Linked DNA regions of Homo sapiens. The protein of the gene in region 2 purifies or fractionates together with the protein of the main gene of each other region. This does not show direct contact. Each region holds a gene or a part of one and is shown on either strand. Other genes may lie near its edges.

The links.
Region 1: the proteins of LGALS9C (region 2) and ANO6 purify together in Homo sapiens (affinity purification with mass spectrometry; 3 studies listed by BioGRID and IntAct, with this or other methods). This does not show direct contact.
Region 3: the proteins of LGALS9C (region 2) and SLC12A7 purify together in Homo sapiens (affinity purification with mass spectrometry; 3 studies listed by BioGRID and IntAct, with this or other methods). This does not show direct contact.
Region 4: the proteins of LGALS9C (region 2) and DCX purify together in Homo sapiens (affinity purification with mass spectrometry; 2 studies listed by BioGRID and IntAct, with this or other methods). This does not show direct contact.
Region 5: the proteins of LGALS9C (region 2) and SLC12A2 purify together in Homo sapiens (affinity purification with mass spectrometry; 3 studies listed by BioGRID and IntAct, with this or other methods). This does not show direct contact.
Region 6: the proteins of LGALS9C (region 2) and TSPAN3 purify together in Homo sapiens (affinity purification with mass spectrometry; 2 studies listed by BioGRID and IntAct, with this or other methods). This does not show direct contact.
Region 7: the proteins of LGALS9C (region 2) and SLC12A6 purify together in Homo sapiens (affinity purification with mass spectrometry; 3 studies listed by BioGRID and IntAct, with this or other methods). This does not show direct contact.

Annotation. Positions count from the first base shown.
Region 1 is NC_000012.12:45,219,095-45,222,594, reverse strand, and holds part of ANO6 (anoctamin-6), read right to left. Parts: intron 1-3,500. UniProt on the Homo sapiens protein: Small-conductance calcium-activated nonselective cation (SCAN) channel which acts as a regulator of phospholipid scrambling in platelets and osteoblasts.
Region 2 is NC_000017.11:18,490,289-18,493,788, forward strand, and holds part of LGALS9C (galectin-9C), read left to right. Parts: intron 1-444; coding exon 445-480; intron 481-984; coding exon 985-1,035; intron 1,036-1,656; coding exon 1,657-1,701; intron 1,702-2,168; coding exon 2,169-2,257; intron 2,258-2,408; coding exon 2,409-2,571; intron 2,572-3,500. UniProt on the Homo sapiens protein: Binds galactosides.
Region 3 is NC_000005.10:1,077,564-1,081,063, forward strand, and holds part of SLC12A7 (solute carrier family 12 member 7), read right to left. Parts: intron 1,934-3,500; coding exon 1,835-1,933; intron 1,196-1,834; coding exon 1,138-1,195; intron 445-1,137; coding exon 270-444; intron 1-269. UniProt on the Homo sapiens protein: Mediates electroneutral potassium-chloride cotransport when activated by cell swelling. May mediate K(+) uptake into Deiters' cells in the cochlea and contribute to K(+) recycling in the inner ear.
Region 4 is NC_000023.11:111,402,193-111,405,692, reverse strand, and holds part of DCX (neuronal migration protein doublecortin), read left to right. Parts: intron 1-3,500. UniProt on the Homo sapiens protein: Microtubule-associated protein required for initial steps of neuronal dispersion and cortex lamination during cerebral cortex development. May act by competing with the putative neuronal protein kinase DCLK1 in binding to a target protein.
Region 5 is NC_000005.10:128,184,766-128,187,471, reverse strand, and holds part of SLC12A2 (solute carrier family 12 member 2), read right to left. Parts: exon of another isoform or gene 2,684-2,706; coding exon 2,616-2,683; intron 977-2,615; coding exon 841-976; 3' UTR 1-840. UniProt on the Homo sapiens protein: Cation-chloride cotransporter which mediates the electroneutral transport of chloride, potassium and/or sodium ions across the membrane. Plays a vital role in the regulation of ionic balance and cell volume.
Region 6 is NC_000015.10:77,050,610-77,054,109, forward strand, and holds part of TSPAN3 (tetraspanin-3), read right to left. Parts: intron 2,321-3,500; coding exon 2,168-2,320; intron 1,860-2,167; coding exon 1,776-1,859; intron 1-1,775. UniProt on the Homo sapiens protein: Regulates the proliferation and migration of oligodendrocytes, a process essential for normal myelination and repair.
Region 7 is NC_000015.10:34,254,282-34,257,781, reverse strand, and holds part of SLC12A6 (solute carrier family 12 member 6), read left to right. Parts: coding exon 1-140; intron 141-1,498; coding exon 1,499-1,553; intron 1,554-2,389; coding exon 2,390-2,520; intron 2,521-3,192; coding exon 3,193-3,434; intron 3,435-3,500.

The DNA.
Region 1 (3,500 bases), on a different chromosome or scaffold from region 2:
GCACCCCAACATTATAGCAAGAGTTATGGTAGTTATAAGCCAGGAACCATGGACAAAAACATATGTGTCATAATATCACAGGGAACCACTGAGAAAAAGAGGAGGTGAGGCTGAAATTACTATGAAGGGGAATGGTCTGGCCAGGCATGGTGGCTCACGCCTGCTCAGCACTTTGGGAGGCCGAGGCAGGCGGATCACCTGAGATCAGGAGTTCGAAACCAGCCTAGCCAACATGGCGAAACCCCATTTCTATTAAAAATACAAAAATTAGCCGGGCACAGTGGTGGGCACCTGTAATCCCAGCTACTTAGGAGGCTGAGGCAGGAGAATAACTTGAACCCGGGAGGCGGAGGTTGCAGTGAGCTGATATTGAGCCATTGCACTCCAGCCTGGGCAACAGAGCTGGAGTGGGGGGGCCGGGCGTGGTGGCTCATGCCTGTAATTCCAGCACTTTGGGAGGCTGAGACAGGCGGATCACGAGGTCAGGAGATGAGACCATCCTGATTAACACGGTGAAACCCCGCCTCTATTAAAAATACAAAAAAAATAGCTGGGTGTGGTGGCGGGGGCCTGTAGTCCCAGCTACTTGGGAGGCTGAGGTGGGAGAATGGAGTGAATCCAAGAGGCGGAGCTTGCCGTGAGCTGAGATCACGCCACTGCACTCCAGCCTGGGCAACAGAGCAAGACAACGTCTCCCAAAAAAAAAAAAAAAAAAAAGGAGTCGGGGAGGGAGAATGGTCTGAGCCAATGGTCAGAGGGGAAAATTAAAAGACTAGTTGGAACAGAAAATTCTCTCCTCCTGCCACCATCATCCTGGGCTCCTCTCTGCTTGCCGGAAACAATCAGCAGCTGAGAACCCACAGATGGCGCCTCTTTCATAAAGCTGTCAGACCCATTCTTCTCTATTCCATGACCACTGCAGGCATTTCTGACCCCAACTACTGGAAAGGCTTAGCTCTACTGTCTCCTTTCCCAACCCATTTTAGAACGTGCTACCATGGAGATCTTTCCAAAAGCAAATCCAATCCTATCACTCTTTTCATTAACATCCTTCAGGAGCTCCAAATCACATACAGAGTAAAACCCAAAATCCTTAAAGTGTATGGAGGATCCTTCACGGCATAGCCTCTCCCTGCCTTCCCTAGCAGGCAACTATTTGGAACTCCAGACTCTCCTCCGGCCATCTCTGCACTACATTTTCCTAGTCTTTCAGCATCTGACCCAAAAATCTCTTCTGTGAAGCTCTCTCCCAGTCTCTCCCTTCAGTTTTATATGTACCTTTTATTGCAAATCTCTGTCTGATGATGCAGAGAAAACCAAACTCAGGTTCTCCTTCTGTACTCTCAATACAATCAACACAGAATACGTTTATCACCAGATGTGGGAAGAGTTCTTCCCACATGACAAGCAAGTAGTTGTTCAGCAATGAACGCCAGCTGGGCGTCCTCTAAATCAACTCAATTCGGATACTATCCACCTGCAGTAAGCCTCAGAGCTCAGATTGAGGGCTCAGTCCTACAAGGCTGCCCCCCCCCACTTCCGACACCAATCACAGGCCCCAGGTTGTTTTGCCTGGGTTTCTGACCCACCGGCTACAAATTGAGGTTCTTGCAACACCCTCTTTGGGTTCCATTAATTTGCCAGGGCAGCGCACAGAATTTTTGGGTTCTTATGGAGGCTTTATTACATAGGCATGATTGATTAAATCATTAGCCACTGGTGATCAGCTTAACCTTCAGCCTGGCTCTTACCCCTCTTCAGGTTGGTAGATGGGGCTGGAAGTCCAAACCTTTAATCCTGCCTTGGTCTTTCCAGTGACCAGCCCCCATCAGGAAGCTACCTAGGGGCTGCCAGCCATCTGTCAACTTATTAGCATACAAAAAGACACTTACCACTTTGAAAATTCCAAAAGTTTTAGGAGTTGCATGCCAAGAAACTGGAAGAATGCCTTATATATTTCACAATATCACAGTCTGGTTCTAAGGAACTTTTCTCCTGGAAGACACAGGTATGTCTTACTCATTTTCAGTCTCCCAACACCTGACCCAGCACCTAATCCTGAAACTAGCACAGAAGGATTGCTCAATCAATGTTTATGAAGGAAGACTGGGGCTAGTATCAGATTTATAGGTGATTAAACCTGAAGTAGGTAATAAGGAAAGAGAGGTGGGTGTGGGAAGATAAGTCTATGTAAAAATGTGACAGTTGAAAAGGGAGCCAATAGCTGGATCATTATCTCTCAAAGGTAATGGACCATGTCCTCTGTCTACCCCTCAATGACATACATGACCATTAGTGATGGGGATCAGACAGTAAACTACCATAAACAGACTAGGAACTCAAAGCAACCAACCAACCATCCACAAACAAAACCTCATTATCTGAACAGTCTGAATAGTTCCTGATAGTCTTTTTTGGAACCACTTTTCCTCCTTCAGCAAAGCTTGACCACAGAGAACAGAATTGAAGAAACAAAATAAAGCAGCATACTAATCTGATTTCTGCATTCTGGCTACAAAAGCTGTTCCTATAGCATTCTACATGAACAAGAAGAGATGCTGAATTTAATCCGCTGATGAGGGGGCGAAAAGCAGCCAAGGACACTCTTTTGCACACTTGGCAGGGTAGCACACAACCTAACTCCCAGGGGCTTGCAACAATATGTGATCTCCACCAGCACAACAGGGGCTTCAAACCACACATTTCCCACTACTACTGCCTGGATGTGGCTTCAGTGGTTGGTTGTTGGCTCTGCTTTAGAAATAAGTGGCCTATTGCAAAAATGCTCTAATGCCAACAGGTTGCCACACAAGCACGCCTTTGGAAATAATTTCTGCTGGCTGTAACTTAAACAAACAAGGAAAAGACATCCATAGTGAGATGTACTATCCTTGATTCTCCAGATCAGTTCATTCTAAACTAGGAGGCAACACTGACATAAAGTACTGAACAGCCAGGCATGGTGGCTCACACCTGTAATCCCAGCACTTTGGGAAGCCGAGGTAGGATAATCACTTAAGCTCAGGAGTTTGAAACCAGTCTGGGCAACAGTGAGACCTTGTCTCTACCAAAAAAAAAAAAAAAAAAAAAATTGGCCAGGCATGGTGTCACAAGGCCTGTGGTCCCAGCTACTCAAGAGGCTAAGGTTGGAGAATTGCTTGAGCCTGGGAAGTCAAGGCTGCAGTGAGCTGTGACTGCGTCACTGCACTCCAGCCTGACAGAGGGAGACCCTGTCTCTAAATGAATAAATAAAAGTACAATAAAAATACAGTGTTTCAAAAGTAAGCAGGAACCCACTGTTTAAAAGGCTCTAAATTCCAGCTACTAGAGGGCACATTTCCATATACATACATAAAGCATCTCTATGATATAATCAGGGACCCCATCCAGTTAGAAAGTTTTTTTTTGGGGGGAGGGGGAGGTCTCTTGCAAATTAGGCCATTATAACGCCCAATGGTATACCCAGGAACTCGTGTCAAAATAATTCTAAGGCTGGGTAC
Region 2 (3,500 bases):
TCTTTCTGAGCCTCATTGCCTCACCAGGGACACAGGAGCTGAGGCTGCTTCCCTCTTTGGAAAGCACTGAAGCCCAGGACTCGGCCCACAATAGGCCTTCAACAAATACCACTTCTCAGCTTACGGGTGAAATATGGCACCGGAAGTAATGCTCTTGGCTGTGGGAGCTACAGACAGCAATGAGGTCTCTATCAAACCCAGCCTCCTCTCTCTCGAGAGGAACCAGTGGGGATACCCTACCCCTCAACCCCAAAGCCTTGTGCACCTGAGGGTAAAAATCTGGGTGCCACGGGCTCAGGAAGGCTTGCTTGGGAGCAAGAGGGAGGTGGGTGTGTCTGGGGAGGCATTTCTGAGCACAAGAGCCTCCCTGGAGTTCTGCCATCGTCTCTCCCCGTTCTGTGGTGCCCGCAATAACCACCGTTCTGACTCTCCTCACCCCTCCAGCCTCCCAGCGTGCGGCCTGCCAACCCAGCTCCCATTGTAAGTCTCTTGCTTTCTTTTTGGATCCTCTTGATTTTGGCTCTTCTTCTGGGCTAATGGAGGATGCAGGGCCAGGCATTGGGCCTCTCCCATCGGGAGTGGGGAGGGCAGAGGCCAGGCCCTTGACCATCTACCCGGCCTGGCGAGGTTGGTGGGTGAATGTGGTTGGCTGGCCGTGATGGAACAACCTGAGTTGCCACTCCATGGGCAGCCACGGAAGACCATGCCCCACGTTCACTTCTCTCACCTGCAAAGGGAGGCTAGGCTGAGAGACGTTTCCCCGAGAGGAAAGATGGGCCAGAGCCACCAGCGTCCCCATCTGTCTTCTCCAGGGTCCTAACCTTTGCCTCTCCCTCGTCCCCTGGACCCACCCTCCGTGGGGTCTGTGGGGCCACTGGGCTGGTTATGCCCCTGGAGGGTGCCTGCCGTGTGGCACCCTCTGGTGGGAGCTGGGGTGGTCTTTACTCAGGAGAGCCTGGGTGAGACCTGGTTTCTTTCTTCCAGACCCAGACAGTCATCCACACGGTGCAGAGTGCCTCTGGACAGATGTTCTCTGTAAGTCTTCAAGTTCTGATCAGTTCACAGCTGCACAGTGCCCTCCTTCCCCAAGAACTAAACTCCCTAGAGCCCTAGAGTTGGGAAGAAAGCGGTTTAGCAAGGAGGGTGGGGACATCTGGGGCTGAGTCCTTGGCTCAGGTGACATGTGGTTAAAACTATCCTTGGGACAGCAGAGATTCTGGATTTATCCAGTGGTGGAAGAGGCAGGTTCCCTAGAGACTGGGAGGGAAACTGGTCCTTCTGTCACCAAGTGGGGAGTGCAGTGGCCCCAGCACCCGGATGTGAGGTTCCTGGCCCTGCCTCCTGGGTCCCCGGGATGTCACTACAGATCACAGGCTTAAGCTCTTCTCCTGCTGGTGCAAATCAGGCCGGGAACTTAGCATTAGTGGGGCTGCCTGCGGAGGGGCTGAGGGGCAGGTGACCATGGTGGGGTCTGGGAACACGGCAGGAAGTTCCAGGAAGGCTAACATGAAAACGGAGGTTTACGGGAGAGTCCAAGGGCCAAAGGCTCATGAGGTCAGCCTCACAGTGGAGCCCCCTCTAGAATGCGTGGGTGCGCGTGGGTGAGTGCTCGCGCACACATGCGCTCTCCCATTGAATTTCCTGGTTTCTTTTCAGCAGACTCCCGCCATCCCACCTATGATGTACCCCCACCCTGCCTATGTAAGTGGTTTCTCAGGGAGGGCAGAGGTTCTGTTTGTGGTGGGCAGGCTAGGGATGAAGGGCCGCTACGGGGGGATCCGCTGGCCTTGAAAAATGAAAAGCGAAGGGCTTTCAAAATGGTAAGCTGAAGGGCTTCAAAGCGTCCCAGTGAATTAGAAGACTGTGGAGAGGAGCTTTCAACCTTAAAACTGTCGTGTCAACGTGAGCACATTGCATGGCCCTCCCTTTTCACCCCACGAGTCTTTCTTTCTGTGTTTGGCCAAATTTCCTTTCATGACACTAATCTAAGCCCATTAATTTGAGGAGCACCGGAAAGTTTTCCTTTGGCTTTTATGGAACCAAGGAAAGATATCGTGGGCTTCTTCTCAGCTGACAGCCTAAATTCATGGGAACTGGTACAATCTTCCCCTTCCATGTGGCGGCTGCCCTGACTGCCACTGGCTGACCTGTCCCCGTCCTTCTGACAGCCGATGCCTTTCATCACCACCATTCCGGGAGGGCTGTACCCATCCAAGTCCATCATCCTGTCAGGCACTGTCCTGCCCAGTGCTCAGAGGTAAGCCAAAGGCTCCAGTGACCTCTGGGAAGAGAGAGCCCTTCAAGGTCATTCCAGCCATTCCCCTGGCTTTTGGCAGGCTGGGGATGATGGGGAGGAAATGGGGCTCAGAACTCAGTGGACAAAGGTCCAGGTAGGCTGCCCACCCCAGGTTCCACATCAACCTGTGCTCTGGGAGCCACATCGCCTTCCACATGAACCCCCGTTTTGATGAGAATGCTGTGGTCCGTAACACCCAGATCAACAACTCTTGGGGGTCTGAGGAGCGAAGTCTGCCCCGAAAAATGCCCTTCGTCCGAGGCCAGAGCTTCTCGGTAAGGCGCCGCAGCCTGGAGCTTGAGGAGGCTCCTATGGGTACACGGGGAGGGGGTAAAGGAGGTCTGGGGTACCTTGAACAGGATGGGAGCTGATGCCTCTGGGATGAGGGCCCAGAAGAAAAGGTGGCCAAAAAATTATTGTCATTATTATTAATAATTATTACTGTCCTGCATGAAGGAAGCGTTGGGATCTGCTTTTTTAGATGAGGAAAGAAACTCACAAGTGCAGGTTACTTGCTTGCGGTCACACAGTCAGTAAGTGTCAAATCAGACCCAAGAAGGAGGTGTTATTCATTTCTTCACTGACTCATTCAACGATTTCACTGTCGCCCGCTTTGTGCAGGAAGCACTCCACATGCTGGGAGCGCAGTCATGAAGCAGACACGTAGGGTCCTTCCTCCAGAGAGTTTACAATTTAGCTGGGGGAAGGAACAAGGAAACTAAAGCATGAACAGATTGTTGCAGATAACAACAGTGCCACGCAGAAAGCAAAACAGAGCGATGAGATAGAGCGAGCCTGGGAGGGGCAGCTAGGGCCAACATGCAGAGGTGTGGGTGTGGCCTCTCCAGGAACAGCAGCAGGCGTGCTCCGCCCTGACTACACATTCAAATCACCCAGAGAGCTTACAAAGAACATATAGGTGCTGGGACCCCAGCCCAGGCCAATGAGGCGGTCAGCCTGGGCATTTGTATTTTTAAAATATGCCTGAAGTGATTACACTCTGCAATCAGAGTTGAAAATGACTGATGTAGGGCTTTGCAGCCATGGAGCCAGGGAGCAACATTCTTTGATTTGTGGACAGCTGTGTGACCTCGGGCAAGTGACTTAGCTACTCTGTGCTTCAGTTTCCTCATCTACAAAATGGAGCTAATAATCATATGAATCTCCTAGAGCTGTAAGAATGGAATGAGGCAGTATCTGTAGC
Region 3 (3,500 bases), on a different chromosome or scaffold from region 2:
ACACGTGGCTGTGGGCCCTCACAGCCGCTCCTGACACACCCGGGGCCGAGCTCGGAGGGACCTGCAGGCAGGAGGGCTAGAATTGCCTCTGCCCACCACCCACCTCCCACCACTCCCATGCTCTGTGCAGTGGCCAGGGGCAGAATGACCACCATGGGGTCCAAGCCGCGGGCATGCGTCCCACACACGGCACTGTGAGGATCCCGCAGGGGAGGAGAGCCCCCGACCCTGACCTTCCAGGGTCCCCCCGACGAGGGTGCGGGACTCACCTGCAGGAAGGGGACGATGCCGTCACGGGCAATGGCCTGCAGTAGGCGCGGTGCCCCCGTGAGGCTCTGCAGGCCGGCACCGCAGGTGGAGAAGAAGGAGCCGATGACGATGACCCAGGGGGAGGGCCAGGCCAGCATGCCGATGACCAGGTTCCCCTGCAGGGCCTCCCCGAACCTGCAGGCAGGCGGGCAGGCGGGCGGGCGGCTTTCAGAAGTGAGCCTGAGTCAGACAAAATGTCTTCTCCCACCCAGAGCGAGGGGCCCAGTGCAGTGGGGGCGACTCCTTGGAAAGCTGAGGCCCGGCCTCCAGTCCCCGTTGGCTGAAACCTCCACCAGGCTCTGCCCAGCATGGCCAGAATGCTCTGGAGGGTCTTCAGCGGGGGAGGGGGTCCTGCTCACCTCAGGGTCGCTCTTGGGAGCAGGGAAGACCCAGCCTGGCATCAGCTTCAGTCAGGGACCACCCAGGACCCCCGGGGCCTTGGGGCTGCCAGACACGCACACCCCATGAGGATGCAGGGTCAGTGATGACCTGCCTGGGACCCCACTACTTCTCCACTTGCCAGCAGGGCTGAGGGATCTCCCAGGGCCAAGCCTCACCCGTCCACACCCCTGTGGCCTCCCCAGGAAGGGCCTGCGCCCCCAGCCGCATCAGGGCTTGGAGTTGGCTCTGAACGGTTCCCCAGGCCCTAGGCTCCAGCGGAAGAGACGACACATCAGACCAAGGGATCCCAACCCTGGGACCAGGACGCCTTCAGCTCTGCACGCGGACATGAAGTCCTAGGGCGATGTAATTTCAAAGCCGAATTCATCCTCAGGAAAACCCTTGAAGACTACAGGCTTTGCACGAAAACTGCAGGTGGAAACGTACTTATCTCGTAAGACCACGCCTTCAATGCAGGCCCCAAACAGCACAATGCAGGAGAGATCCACAGCCCTCGTCAAGGAAAGGCAGGTCCGTGGGTGCAGGGTCCTCAGGTACGGGGGGTGGGGTGGGGTGGGGTGGGGTGGGTGGGGAGATGCACTGGCCAGCGGGCCGCAGGATCCAGGTGGGCGGGGACCGTTCTGCATCCCATCCCATCCCGGGCACGTCCTGTCCCCCGTGTCCTCAGCGCACCCTCCTGGGGCTCTGTCCAGCGCCACAGAACGGGGCCCTGGGGTGGTGGACACACACCTGGCCTGGTGCTTGACCGCCAGGGATTGGCAGGGGACCATGCTGAGGGGACAATGCTCGGCTGGAAAGAGGCAGCCTTGGGATTGAGAAGCCAGAGGCCCCGCGGGCCCAGCCTGCCGGCGGCACACCCCACACACCGCTGCGCATCACTGTCCACACGCGGCAGGGTGACTGCTTCTGTTTTCTCTACGATCGCATCACACAGTGGTGAAGAAGCCAGGGTCCTGACAGCAGCCCTTGCCCCGTCTCCCAGGGAGGATGACGTGGTGAGAGCACAGCCTAACCTGGGAAGTCACATGCTGGTGGCCGAGGGTATGATGCTGAGCCGGGGAGGGCATGGGGGCCTCCCCCCAGGCAGAGGCTGGAACCCTCGCCTGCACCCCTCCAAGGATACAGATGAAAGACGTCGTCACTATGGCCAGGATGGTCCCCGTGGGGATGGACTTCTGTGCATCCTTGAGGTCCCCGGACCGGTTTGAACCCGCCATGATACCTGTGAACATGGAAAATGCTGCAAAGACCCATCTGAGGAGTCAGTGCCATGTGATGGCAGCCCCTGCCCAGAAAGCTGGAAAGGCGGTCTCTGGGGAGACCCCGAGCGTGAGCTGCAGCCGAGGCTGCAGTCCAAGCTCCGCCAGCCCACGCTGCAATACTGCGGCTGAGGGGATGCGGGCCCAGGCACGCGGATGAGCACCCACGTCTACTGCTCCCCTGGATCCGAGGACGAGAACCGACCCCGTCACTGACCCCCACGCCCCCCACACCCAGGGCTTCTCTGGAGCCTGTGTTAATCCCATGGCCAAGGGTCAGCCCAGAGACGGTGCTGAGCAATGGCTCACAGGCCCCCAGGACCTAAGGACTTTGGGAATGAGATCCTAGAACGACTCAGCCCAGCCAGCCAGGCCAGCAGACGCTGCGACCCCTCCCGCTGTGGCACCACCTTGCTCTAGGGAGCCACGGCCGGGGATGTTTCCACACAATCGGCTCCTACAAAGCTCTGGGAAGCCGGGTCGGTGGGGGCCACTTCACGCCTGGCTCGGTCCCATCCAAGGCGCAGCCTGAAGCACCCATTGCTCGGGGTGGCCTGGGAGGCAGCAGAGCCCACAATCCAGTGCCGCGGAGACACCCGGAGCCACGCAGAGGCTCTGCCCCCACGCCCTCCACCCGCGGCTCAGAGACACCCGGAGCCACGCAGAGGCTCTACCCCCACGCCCTCCACCCGCGGCGCGGAGACACCAGGAGCCACGCAGAGGCTCTGCCCCCACGCCCTCCACCCACGGCGCGGAGACACCAGGAGCCACGCAGAGGCTCTGCCCCCACGCCCTCCACCCACGGCGCGGAGCGCACTCAGACGGACGGGGGAGGCTGGAGCGGAGGTACAGGGAGAGGACCCCCGGCAGATCACCCCCTCCATAGCAAGACGGGCCCACCTTCAGTGGAGGCAAGGGAAACACGAGAAGCCAGCGCTGTGGCCAGGCCCTGCAGCTGACCCTGGGCTCCAGGGCTTTCGGATGTGCTGAGATGAAGTCCGGGAGCAGACGTGGGAGGGACCAGAAGGGACCAGAAGGGCAGCTGCAGGCTGCACAAGCAGCCAGCGCCTGTCAGGGGCGTCCCGACAAGAAGGCCGAGTGGAGACAGCCGGGGGCGTGTGTGTGCGACTCGAAGAGCACGGGGCCTGGCCCCACCCCCTGGGGAACAACCAAGGGCCCCACCCACCGCCGGAACAAGGCCCACTGTTTGAGGAGGACACAGAGGGCCGAGGTCCCCGGCCTCTGAGCTCACACTGAGGCCACTCCTAGGTGTCTCCTAACAGCCTGCCAGGTGTTCCCAGCAACCCTACAACAGCTTCTCCTGACACAGGGCTGCCTGGGAGAGCAGCAGACAGGCTTCTCACAAATCCATCAGGACGCAGGGCAGAGACCTCAGCCACTTCCCCTGAGCCAAACAGGCAAGATAAGCAGGGGCAGGAAGGAACACACTACAGAGAGAGAGACAGAGAGAGAGACAGACAGACAGACAGAGAGAGAGAGAGGGAGGGAGGGAAGAAGAGGGAGACAGAG
Region 4 (3,500 bases), on a different chromosome or scaffold from region 2:
TTATTTTTTTTAGAATCTTTCTCTTTCCCTTTATATCTGGTCCAATTCTTTCCCCATTTTCTTGTATGTAAGTATCCAGATCAACCTTGGGGATATCATTTATGACTAGCCAGCTTTTCTGAACCCAAATTGAGACAAGTTCAAGAGTTATTACACAGACCATGGGACAGAATATTTACAATTGGAACAGTCTTAGAAAATCCGAGCTGTGTAGTCACACTGGCTATGATCCAGTTCTTTTACCATAGCTCATATGTTTCATTGAGATGAATCCACCTTCTCACTAATTTATTCTCTAACTACTAAAGCAAGTACATTGTCAAACACAAGAATTTTAAGATACCTGGGAGGGATGCATTGCTAATAGATATGATAATCAAATGTCATTTAATATTTTAATATAATACAGTAAAGTGTCATTTAATATATTCCTTCTTGAGTCAGGAAGCCCTGGAGAAGAGGAGAAAACCCAGGCAGAAGCTTGCTTTTGCACTGAGAAGATACAAATATATATAAAATGCTTTTGAAAATGCAGCCTTCTTAAAGAGAAGGGAGGTAGACATTAGATCATCTCCAGCCCACAGCTTGTTTCATTTCTGCCCTTTCAGCTGTGCTTCCATGATTTCATTCCTTATCCCCTCACCCTAAAGCAGGTTTTTAGTTCCAGCGAATTTGCACCCTGCTTGGCTGTGAAGCCAGCTTTCCCTCTAGGCCCCCAGCTGGTAGGAAATAGCCCTTGGAAGCTGTGGCAGGATGGGAACCCAACTGTGTAAAGGTGCGACACACCTCATCCAGCTCCAAGTGCCAGGCAGCAGGAAGTGCAGGAGGCACTGAGCTCTGGCAGCAGACATTGAAAATGCTGGCAAAATCAGGACAAGGAAGTCTTAGTCTAGCAAAGAAGAGCATTTGATGTCTTTCTAGCAGAAGTGAAGAGTCCTTGGAGGTGGGCAGCTATTTTCTTAACATTTAATTATCCTAACAGCTTTGTTTTCTGAAGCCTGTTTGAGAAGGAAAAGAGAAGATTCCTCCCTATAGACTCTAGGACCTAGAAGGGACTCAGGTGTCACCTAGTGCATTATCTTTGCTTTAGAGAAGGCAAAGCTGAGACTCAGAGACATTAAGTGATTTCCCTGAGGTCACACAGCTTTTAAGTGCCTAGTTGAGATTTGAATCCAGGTCTGTGTGACTCCTAAGTCATCACTCTTGACGACGATAAATATCCTGCTCTCAGCGGGCCTCTGCAGAGGCAGCAGCAGCTTTACTGGGTGTTAGCATAAATCTCCTACATTTGGCATTTGCCACAACTGGAAGCCTCCTTCCAACCAGCAGGAAATCTTATCCTTGAATCACAGGCCCCCAGCAGTGCTCATGTCATATCATAATCACAGCTCAGTTCCTAGATGGTTGCCCTTGATACTTTCTCTTTTTTTTCCTCTTCAGCTTCTATTCCTCTTTTTAGTCTCTTTCTCTCAGCAATTTTTTCCTCTTTTCCTCTTTGCTCTTTCCTTCTTGTTCTCGCTTCTATTCCGTAAGATTAGGGGCTTAATAATAACAGAAATTTATCAAGTGCTTACTATGTTCCAGGCTCTGGGATCAGCATTTTATTTTATTTTATTTTATTTTATTTTATTTTATTTTATTTTAAGACGGAATCTCACTCTCTCCGTCACCCAGGGTAGAGTGCAGTGGTGCGATCTCAGCTCACTGCACCCTCTGCCTCCCAGGTTCAAGCGATTCTCCTTCCTCAGCCTCCCTAGTAGCTGGGATTATAGGCATGTGCCACCACGCCCAGCTAATTTTTGTATTTTTAGTAGAGATGGGGTTTCACCATGTTGTCCAGGCTGCTCTTGAACTTCTGATCTCAAGCGATCCACCTGCCTCAGCCTCCCAAAGTGTCAGGATGACAGGCATGAGCCGTCGCACCTGGCCATGGGTTGAACACTTTTTATCCATCATCTGATTTGTGCCCCACAACAACCCCACAAGATAGGTATTCTTATTATCACCCTTGCTTTGCAAAGAAGAAACTGAAGCCAAGGGAGGTTAGAGTGCACAACTAGGAAGTGTTGGGGACCCCATCCTGACTGACATCACATCAGCTGCGCTTTTTCCATTACTCCATATTCAGCCCAACGAGAGAGTGGAGTGACTAAAATGTACCACTGGAAGGTGCTCAACATAGATTTGGCTGAGGCTGGGCCCTCTGGAAAGTTCTTGGGTGCTATATGATACTATAGCTGTCAGTCATCATGTTCATTTTCATCTGGAGACGGTTAATCATACTCATACTCCAGAGGCTTAAGAGGTTTAAGAGATGGGAGCAAAAAAGTCCAAAGTCCTAATAGGGCTACACAGCTGACTCTCCAGAGGAGACTGGATGAGTGAAATCATAAATATATAGCTTCACACATTTCCACACCACCATTTGTCTGACAGTTTTAAAGTACATGACAAGTTATGGAAAACATCTGACTCAAAGGCAGTGACCTCCTGCAAGGTGCCAGTGAATCTGGTGAACTGCTAAGTCAAGAGACCATTTCTAGGGTTATGGGGGTTATTGGCTGTGAATATATGGAGACACTAAAAGGGCCCCTTCCTTCATCCTTTTAAGTCAAAAATTAAAGACCCCAGCCTATAATTACTTGGGTTGGGTTGAATTAACCAGCAAGGGAGTCAAAGAAATCAGAGCTTCTCTTGGCTGAGGTATTGACCATCTCATCCTGGGTGTCCATGTATGCACCAAGTGGGTAAGGGTGCCTATCCTCACTTAAAACCATCCCTTTGTCCCCCTGTCAAGATAGAACTCTGGGACTGAGGGCAGCTTTGGAAGTCACTTTGCTTATGTTGGATGCCACTTACCCTCCCCCTCCGCACACACACACACACACACACACACACACACACACACACCACGCACACACACACACACATACACACACACATAAATGTCCTCAAAGGTACACTAGAGATTTTGACTGAAACTTCTCTTAGCATTACTGAGAAATTTATTCATTAACATGTCTTAAAGGATTTGGTGCTATGGCAAAGCAATAAATATTTGCAAAGGGAGTGAATTATCAACCTGGTGTTTCTGAATGCAGTTCTCCTGCTGAGACCAAAGGAGAGCCATCAGACTATAATTGTGTTTAATGCTTTCTGTGCACTGGCTAGGGTTTATTTATTTATTTAGGGTTATTACCGATGACTTAAGCCTGATTAAATCACACTGTTTCTGCAGCTCAACCTCTCAATGAACTTCTAGATACCTTGAGGCTAATGTGTTTTACTCAACGAATTCAACCTTTTCCAGTATTCTCTTCCCCAGGCTGAGCCTATCTCTCTTCCTATTTTCTTCAGCTCATAGTCCCAGGTGTCCAGTCCCCTCCTCTTGCCTCTGATCCCTGCATTTCTTTTGCGATATTAGTCATTTCCTCTAGCCCAAGGTAAATGTGAAAATTACACTAGATCCTTCCAATCCATAAATCAGGCTGTATAATGTA
Region 5 (2,706 bases), on a different chromosome or scaffold from region 2:
TAAATTAGGACAGTTTTCTCTCCAAATAAATATAAATGATCTTGAGTATTTTTGTTTAAAGAATGACGTGATTTTTAAGCATGGTATATAGAAGTATGGGATGAATCTTCAATCTTCCCTAAGGTTTCAATAAATAATAATAAATATAGTAATAATAGCCAATCAGAGGGGTTAAAAAGGTATTTGGGGGGGCTTTTTTTCCTAGCTCTATATTCACATATACTCATATAAACCTTACCATGGGGTTACTTTTTGGTTACCATTTCCCCTTCCCCATTTTTGATTAACCTGCCCTAATTCTCACCTTTAATATCTAACAGATACCTTTATAGAATTAACAAAACACATACAGTACTCAACACTAAATGGTCAATGGAAGAAGACAAGCAGTGTTCATTTTGTTTTAAAGTGGAAGAGACTAGAAATAAAAACAGTTGAAGGCAAAGTTTGACATTCTATAAGTTTATAAAAGAGGATATATGGATGAAATTTGGTTAATTTCAGAAGGCACCTCAAGGCTAAAGGCTTTTTGTACTTCTTTCATCAATCAAAAAGTTAACACGCTTTTATTGCTATTCAAGTAGCAAAGGAAAACTACTCTCACAAACTTCAGTTCAACAGAGAAGAATCACCATTAAGATTGAGATATGGAATTGACTAAAACCGAAGTCTCCATACACGTTATCAATGGAGCAACTTTCCTGTGTGCTTTCAAATTAATGAAATCGTGAAAGAAAAGTCACCATTCGCCATTGTGATGTTAATGTGTCATTGAAGATTTCAGTTACTACACTAGGCACTGAAGTACCATTCTGGAGGGCTGTCCACTGTATAGAACATTTATGAATAGAAGGTAAGGACACTCTGATGATTCCCACGAACTAGGAGGATTGGTGGTAGGTCCTTAGATAGAGCTTCTAACCATGCCATGTAGAGAGCACTAGACACAGCACCTTTTCGTGCAACTGGGAGACTCCTGGTATCAAAAAGAGAAAAAGAAAAAAAAAAAACCCTGAGCAATGCATTTACAGAATAAAATGTAGCAAAAATTATAAAGTAGATTACAATAACAGTTACTGTAAATTACTATAATTACAGAATATTTCTGAGTGCAGGAGAATTCTGCAAATAGAATAACAACCACAGTTGTGTTGCTTAGCGATGGAGACGCATTTCTCAGAACTTACTGTCAGGCAATTTTGCCCTCGTGAAAACATCACAGGAGTACTTACACAAACCTAGATGGTATAGCCTACTACACATCTAGGCTATATGACACAGCCTGTTGCTCCTAAGCTACAAACCTGTATAGTACGTTACTGTAGTGAATACTATAGGCAACTGTAACACGATGGTAAGCATTTGCATATCTAAATACAGAAAAGATACAGTAAAAATATATATATATTTTTTTAAGAGAGATGGGGTCTTAATACATTGCCCAGGCTGGACTCAAAACTCCAAAACTCCAGATCTCAAGCAATCCTCCCACCTCAGTCTCCCAAGTAGCTGAGACTACAGGTGCACACCACCATGCCCAGCTTAACATATGGTATTATAATCTTATGGTACCACCATCATATATGCATATATAAAAGACTATAATCTTTCAACAAAAGATTTTTCAAAATTTGTTCATAAGAACAGTAAGTATTTCTATAAACCACAGTACCTCTGATATCTAACACTAAATCCTAGGTTTCCCCTTCTTTAATAAGAATAGAATTCTTTTAGGTGAAAGGTATGTTTACTATCAAAATTTAGAAAACAGAAGCTATATATGGATAAATGCAATTTTTATCTTCTCTTAGTTTTAATTTCTATTTATGGATGGTGGCAGCAGTGACCAATTGCTGTATAGTTTTTCTCTAAATTTCTATGTTTTGGTGTCTTTTCCATTTACAGGTATTTGATTATCATCAGCAAAACTTGAAACTTTTTGATTTATTGAATGTTGTTAAACTAACAATCTTTTGGTAGTTTTTTTCATTACTTGGCTTTTTTTGTGGGGGAGAGGCCTGAGCTTTCCTATCTAAGGACACATGTTCCAGAACTCAGAAAATGTGGGTTCAAAGAATAGCTAACCTAGTTCAGTAGAGGAAGAGCCAAAGTAGGCATTTAGTATCATATTTAACTCAAGGACAATGTGTCTGTATGTAAAATTTGCGTGTTGGAAACATAAGAATGGGGATCCAGATAGGAATCACTATTCAAGTTTAATCTGCCAAATAACATTTTTTGAATTATTTTCAAGAGGAAGCTGTCCGGGGCCCAAATTTTAACGTAGGACCCTCCTATCCACACGTGCTTAACGGCTATGCTGTAGTGTTTACAAAGATAAGGAATTTTAAAAAGGTGAGAAGAAGGGTAAACAAAAGGTTCCAATATAACCTACTATGATAAAAAGATTACTTGGGATTCATATAAGCATAAGGTTAAAGTTTTTGTCTTTCTCCATATGCTTAAAGCATAGTATATTTTTACAAGTTTGTTTTTTCCTCCTTATAACCACTAAGTCAATATGGGTGTTATATAGATATGTACTTGGAATAGAAATTAATTCAAAGCATATTATCATAAATTAGCAAGAAAATCTTTATAAAGATATTACTTACATGACAATAATATTAGCTGTGCTTGAATGTTCCTTTAATAACTCATTTAACCTGATCTGCCGGTATGTCTGAAATGAAACAGGACAGTCAT
Region 6 (3,500 bases), on a different chromosome or scaffold from region 2:
TCCAAAACTTTTTTGCTGCATGCTAGTACATGTGGCTTTATTACTGAACATAAAATCATTAAGAATGCACAGTTCAGAATTCTATTTGGGAAAAGAGACCTTCCTCATATTTCATTATTTTTAGCTAAATGAATGTGTTTGCATAAATAATCAAAATATGAAATAAATCCCTGCTGATCATCAGATTACTGCTATGCAGAGCTACAGAGTAAATGCTTAGAAGGGCAAAGACCATGGCAAATAAAGAGGTAGGCTTTTTAATGAATCATTTCAGGGCTGTCTGAATATCAGCAAAGTAAACAATCATCCTTTTGCCATTTTAAAAGGCCTTTCCCATTAAATACACTAGCTTCTGTTCAAATATACAAAGAGCAAGCAATCCAAGCAACTTACATTTAAACTAGCAATTACATTGGTTTTATTTAACAAATAAAAGTTATCTACATTTTTCTTTTTTAAAAAAAATTTTTTTTTTGGTAGAAATGGAGTCTTATTGCCCAGGCTGGTCTCAAACTCCTAACATCATGGGATCCTACTCCTCGGTCTCCCAAAGTGCTGGGATTACAGGTGTAACCCATCACACCTGGCTCTTTTAGCTCTTGAAATAGGTTTCAGGCTTAAGAAAGCATAAGCTGAGGCTGGGCGCGATGGCTCACGTCTATAATCCCAGTACTTTGGGAGGCCGAGGCAGGTGGATCACCTGAGGTCAGGAGTTCAAGACCAACCTGGCCAACATGGTAAAAACCTGTCTCTACTAAAAATACAAAAATTAGCTGGGCATGGTAGCGGGAACCTGTAATCCCAGCTACTTGGGAAGCTGAGGCAGAAGAATCACTGGAACCTGGGAGGCAGAGGTTGCAGTGAGCTGAGATCACACCATTGCACTCTAGCCTGGGCAACAAAAGCAAAACTCTGTCGTAAAAAAAAAAAAAAGAAAAGAAAAGAAAAGAAAGCATAAGCTGGGTGCGGTGGCTCACGCCTGTAAATCCCAACACTTTAGGAGGCCAAGACAGAGGATTGCTTGAGGCCAGGAGTTTGAGACCAGCCTGGGCAACATAATGAGACCCCATTTCTGGAAAAAAAAAAAAAAAATTAAAAATTAGTCTGGTGTGGTGGCCCGTGCTTGTAGTCCCAGCTACTGGAGAGGCTGAAGCAGGAGGATCGCTTGAGCCCAGGAGTTCAAAGTTACAGTGAGCTATTATCATGTCATTGCACTCAAGCCTGGGTGACAGAGTGAGACCTTGTCTCTATTTTTAAAAGTTGTTGTGTTTAGTGCAAGAGACCAGTGCTGTAGTACCAGTTCTTGATTTACGTATATGAATATATAAAACCTGTGAGGACAGAAAAACAAGAACTAGAGGGAGAACTAGCATACAAAAAAACTGAATAAAGCTTTGTATTCCCAAACTGAAAGAAAGAAGTACAATTTTTAAAAATTTTGTGACATTCTAATAAAATATCTTCCAAGAATACACTAAGACAACAGTTCGTTTATGTTTTGAACAGGTCACTCACTAATCAAGAAAGACAGTAAGACGAGGAGTTCCCTCAACACGTGGTCCCTCCCCATCCAGATTTCTGGTTTCTTTAGACCATTCCGGGTCTAGGTGTATAGACAAGAAATGGAAAACATGGGAAACTGGAGGCCAGTACCTCAGTCACTTCCACATTACCTACATACACAAAGATTCACTGTGATGGGGATTAAAACCATTCAGGGCTGACAACAGAGAACCAACTCACTCCGATAGAACTCCTTGGCAAGCTGTGCTTACCTGAATAGCTGCAAATGCCAGTGCGGCCCAGATCACATGCATCATGATTTCTTGTAGCTTCTTCACTACTAGAGCCTCACACCCCTGTAACAAACACAGTCATCCTCGTTAGAAGTGTTCTTTAAAAGTTAAAGCTGCAGATTCACAGGCCACTACCCACTTACAGAAAGGAAAATGACAGAAACTGAAAGAGTGGAAAAAAGATTCCATGATTGGTATAATTTACAGACATGTAATTAAAACAAAGACATGCATTTTATAATAATTTACAGTAAAACAATATATGACATTAAAGACAAGCAAGGTGGCAGAAAAGAAGTCCCAGATGGTGATAAGACATGGTGAAAAACAGGTTAATCAAGCTAGACTCAAGTCGTGGCCAAGAGACTCACCTCAGCATAGAGGTCGGAAGGGTGGGCCAGGCTGCCATTACAATTGCTGGCAGTCTCTCTGCAGCAGCTAAGAGGGACACTCTGGTTTTTGGTTTCTTTGAACCAATCTGTATTTTCCCAGTCTGAGTAGTTGTGAATTCCACAACAATGCAGCTAAAGGAGAAGAGAATAAGTATTATTTCTCACAAAAACCAAATACCTGAAGTTCCATGTACTACAGAGCTTTAAAATAAGCTACTCTAGACCAGTGATGTCCGATACAACTTTCTATAATGGAAAGTCTGCATGATCCAATATAGCAGCCACTAGCCACATGAAGCTCTACTGAGCACTTAAATTGTGGCTAGTGTGACTAGAAAACTGCATTTTAAATTTTAATGTAAACAGCCAGACATGGCTAGTGGCTCCAGAATCTCCATATGAAAAGTACATTGCCAGGCCGGGTGCAGTGGCTCACGCCTGTAATCCCAGCACTTTGGGAGGCCGAGATGGGCGAGTCACCTGAGGTCAAGAGTTCAAGACCAGCCTGACCAACATGGTGAAACCCCGTCTCTACTAAAAATACAAAGGCTGAGGCAGGAGAATCACTTGAACCCGGGAGGTGGAGGTTGCAGTGAGCCAAGATCGCGCCACTGCACTCCAGCCTGGGCAACAAGAGTGAAATTTCGCCATCTCAAAAAAAAAAAAAAAAAAAAAAAAAAAAAAAAAAAAAAAAAAAGAAAAGAAAAGTACATTGCCTATAAGCGGTAGTTTCTAACTAAGGAAAATCTTCATGTCTTACATGTTAAATATCTGGTTCCATGTTAAATATTATTTCCAATGACAAAGTATTTAAAATATTTGGTCTTAAAAATTTTGAGATTTGCTTTAAGATAATGAAGCAAAAAGTAAGTAGGGGCAATAAGACTGACGAAAAGTTGATATTACTGAGGCAAGGTCGGGGTGCAAACATCTATTACACTATTCTTTCTACCTTTGTGTGTATCAGACTGTCCATAACAACTTTTTTTTGACAGTTTTTCTGTTGCCTTTTCTTATCTTGTTTTCTAAAGGTATATATAGACCTCCCACCTCCCCTGGAGTCAATCTGGACTCCCACCTTTCCTGTGACACATACCTCTCTCTTGCGTCATCACCCCTTTGGCTAAGTACTTTGGGAGAGTACAGACTGGGGTCAGGGAAGGGGAAATCAGATGATAAAAAAAAGTTCAAGATGTTTCTCATCTGGCTAGGTGATGAAATAAACTTTTCAAGGGTGAAGGTTGGGGAAAAATATTGGTCACATCAGGATAGCCATGTATGTGAAGAAACATGGCTAATTTACACAGAAATA
Region 7 (3,500 bases), on a different chromosome or scaffold from region 2:
AAATGGGTACCTTCATGGGTGTCTACCTCCCATGTCTACAAAATATTTTTGGAGTGATCCTTTTTTTACGCCTTACATGGGTGGTGGGCACAGCTGGAGTTCTTCAGGCTTTTGCAATTGTCCTTATCTGCTGCTGCTGTGTAAGTACTGCACTGGCTCCTAGAGATCACCTGAACGTTGCAAGTTCTCAAGAGCAGATGCACATGACCTCTTTGGGAATAAAACAAAGAATACTTAGGGAAGGACTCATGATCTCAACAGAAGAAATTATTCTGATATTAAAATCTAAAGGATTTTCAGTTATTCAGTGCCTGTTAGTCACTGCTTGCTATCTATTATATGATGTACTAGAAATTACAAAGCAAGACTTCAACTGAAAATGGAAGATAAAGTTCCTGTCTTCAGAGAATTCAGAATCCAAACTATTTGAGCTTGATAGCACCAAAGTTGTGACAGAAAATGTGTTAGAAAATGTGATGTATCACTCCAGTATATATTGAGAAACAAGACAGGTTATTGCGGATGTGAGGGGTATTTGGTTTTTTTATTTGGTTTTGAAGTTTCTTCCCTTATCCCTTCCTTAGAAATTTAGATGTTCTTTCCAGGTCTTCTCTCTACTGAGAACATTTTTATCTTCCTTTAATTTAAACTTCTCATTATGTATCCCAGACACACCTATGAATTTTATAGTTTTCTACTGTCCTTTTTTATCACTATGACCTTTATACCCTACCTGTATATTATCCCCAGCTGATGAGCAAAACAGGTTAAGCAGGCACAGTTCATATTTTTAATAACTTAAAATGTTCATGGTACCACCTTTTTTTAGTCTCAGGCTTAAAACCTCAAGGCTGTGTTTGGCTTCTTAATTGCTTTTCACATCTAATCAGCTACCAACGCTAATCTATTCTCTGAAATCTTTTACACTCAGCCCTTTTTATTCACACTACCACCACTATAGTTTTTACCTCTCACTGAACTACTATGGTAGCCTGCTAACCAATCACTCGGCCTCCAGCTACTCCTATCTGCAGCGCATTCTATACTGTGCTACCGGGTAATATTTTTAAAATGCGGTTCCTGTGTGCTCAGAAGCCTTCAGTGATTCCCTTTCTTACTGAACATTGTTCTTGATATTGTATTTAGTCTTTAGTCAGGTTCTAACCTATTTTCTGAGTTATTTCTCTAGTTCTTCCTTTTGAGTATACTATGCTCTATTTCCTGTGTAACTAGGAAATCCAGAGTGAGATTAGCAGTTCTTAATAGCACCTGACCTACTGATGTGGGAGCATTTTGACAGAATCCTCCAGATATTAGTGGTATGACTAGCGCAATGAATTGGACCATATCATCTTATTTCCATACCATTAGGTATGACTGTCCATAAAAGTAGGTAGAGTTAAATGTTTGCCAAGTGCTCTTGGAACACAAATGGAGAAGTAGTATAGAAATGTCATCTTTACACAGTAACAATCCTCTCCTTTCCTTTTCTCTGCAGACAATGTTGACTGCTATCTCCATGAGTGCCATTGCCACTAATGGAGTGGTGCCAGGTTAGTAGGTCAAGGTTGTATTTCAGGATTTATCAGTGTTGACTCTGTGTTTATGCTATAAAGCTAGAGGTGCAAACTTCTGAAGAATAGAATACTATTTGGTCTGTTCTGTGCTACAACAGAGTAATGGTCTATAGGACGTAGACATAATACTACTTGACTTTAAGATGCCGTCTTTAAAATCTCTTTATTTTTTAAACTAGAATGCATTAATTTCAGTCACATTCTTAGCTTTTATTAGTTGGAATATATATTTTTTTATAGACAGAGTCTCACTCTGTCACCCAGGCTGGAGTGCAGTGACACGATCATAGCTCACACAGCCTCCAACTCCTAGGCTCAAGCTGCTTTCCCACTTCAGCCTCCTGAGTAGCTGGAACTAGAGGTGTACACCACTATGCCTGGCTATTTTTTTTTTTTTACAGAGGTGACATTTTACTATGTTACCCAGTTTGGTCTCAAACTCCTGGCCTCAAGCAATCCTCTCGCCTCATCCTCCCAAAGTGCTACCATTAGAGGCGTGAACCTCCACACCCAGCCAGAATATATTTTATTGGGCTGTCTCATGTCATAGTAAATATTCTCTAATTTTTTTCTAAGTAAATGCTGGCAAACTATTGCTTCATATGGCTCATTACATTAGTTGTGCAGTATATCCCACAATAACACTTTCACCTTTTACTTCCCACTAGCACATCTTTTTATCACATTGAGGGTTTGCAGAAGCCTGAAACATTTAACCTTTATGTATATATTTTTTCTTATTTCTGTTTTATTCATATTCCTCTTGCTAATACACACTCTTTCTTCTATTCACCTTCTGTTTTGTCTTTTAGCTGGGGGCTCATACTTTATGATTTCCCGGGCACTGGGCCCAGAGTTTGGTGGGGCTGTTGGCCTCTGCTTTTATCTTGGTACCACATTTGCAGCAGCCATGTACATCCTTGGTGCCATTGAAATCTTTCTGGTAAGTAATGACTTCATTGTGGTCTATAATATAGAAGAAATATTGATTTAGGTTTATTCTTTGCTATGAAAGCTTCTGAGAGATCAGCTGTGGGAATAAATCAGGTGATTGACTGCCAACGTCAGTTGGCCTCTTACATGAATATGAGGTGGAAAGGTTGAAATTCTGTTTGCCTGCCTGTCCCTTCCTTTCTACCTGATTGCCACCACTCTGCCACCTCATCCAAGAGGTTCAAGTCCAATGGGGAAAAAGTAAAATAAAGTTTATCTTTTTTGATATCTTCATCCCTATGAAATAAAATGCTTCTCATATCTCTCTTCACTGAGACATATTGTTTACTATTTAAAGTAGTGATAGTAGAGTCAGGGTTAAAGATCATCATTATAATTACTTTATATAACCCTATGAATAAAATTAATAATTTGTTCCTTTCCTTTCTTTCCATTTGGAAATGTAGTTATTCAGAACAGCATGTAGACCAAAAAAAAAAAAAAAATCCATGACATCCCATTTCTGAAGGCATTTCAGATCCTATTAGAAACTAGGCTAATTCCCCAGTCATTTTCTCTCTCAGCTTTGCTTTCTTTTGTGAAAGTAAATGCAAACGAATACAGCCTTTTTACTTAATTATTTTGAAATAACCTAATTTTCTCCTTTATTTTTACCTAACAGGTCTATATCGTCCCCCGAGCTGCCATCTTTCACAGTGATGACGCACTCAAGGAATCAGCAGCCATGCTAAATAACATGCGTGTCTACGGCACAGCTTTCTTGGTCCTTATGGTATTAGTGGTATTTATCGGCGTACGCTATGTGAACAAGTTTGCCTCACTTTTCCTGGCCTGTGTCATTGTGTCCATCTTGGCCATCTATGCTGGAGCCATCAAGTCTTCTTTTGCTCCTCCACACTTCCCGTACGTGTCTGTCTCTCTGCCTAGCCATCCTTATTGGGTAGTAATTGAAAATATCTGGTGGTGTGA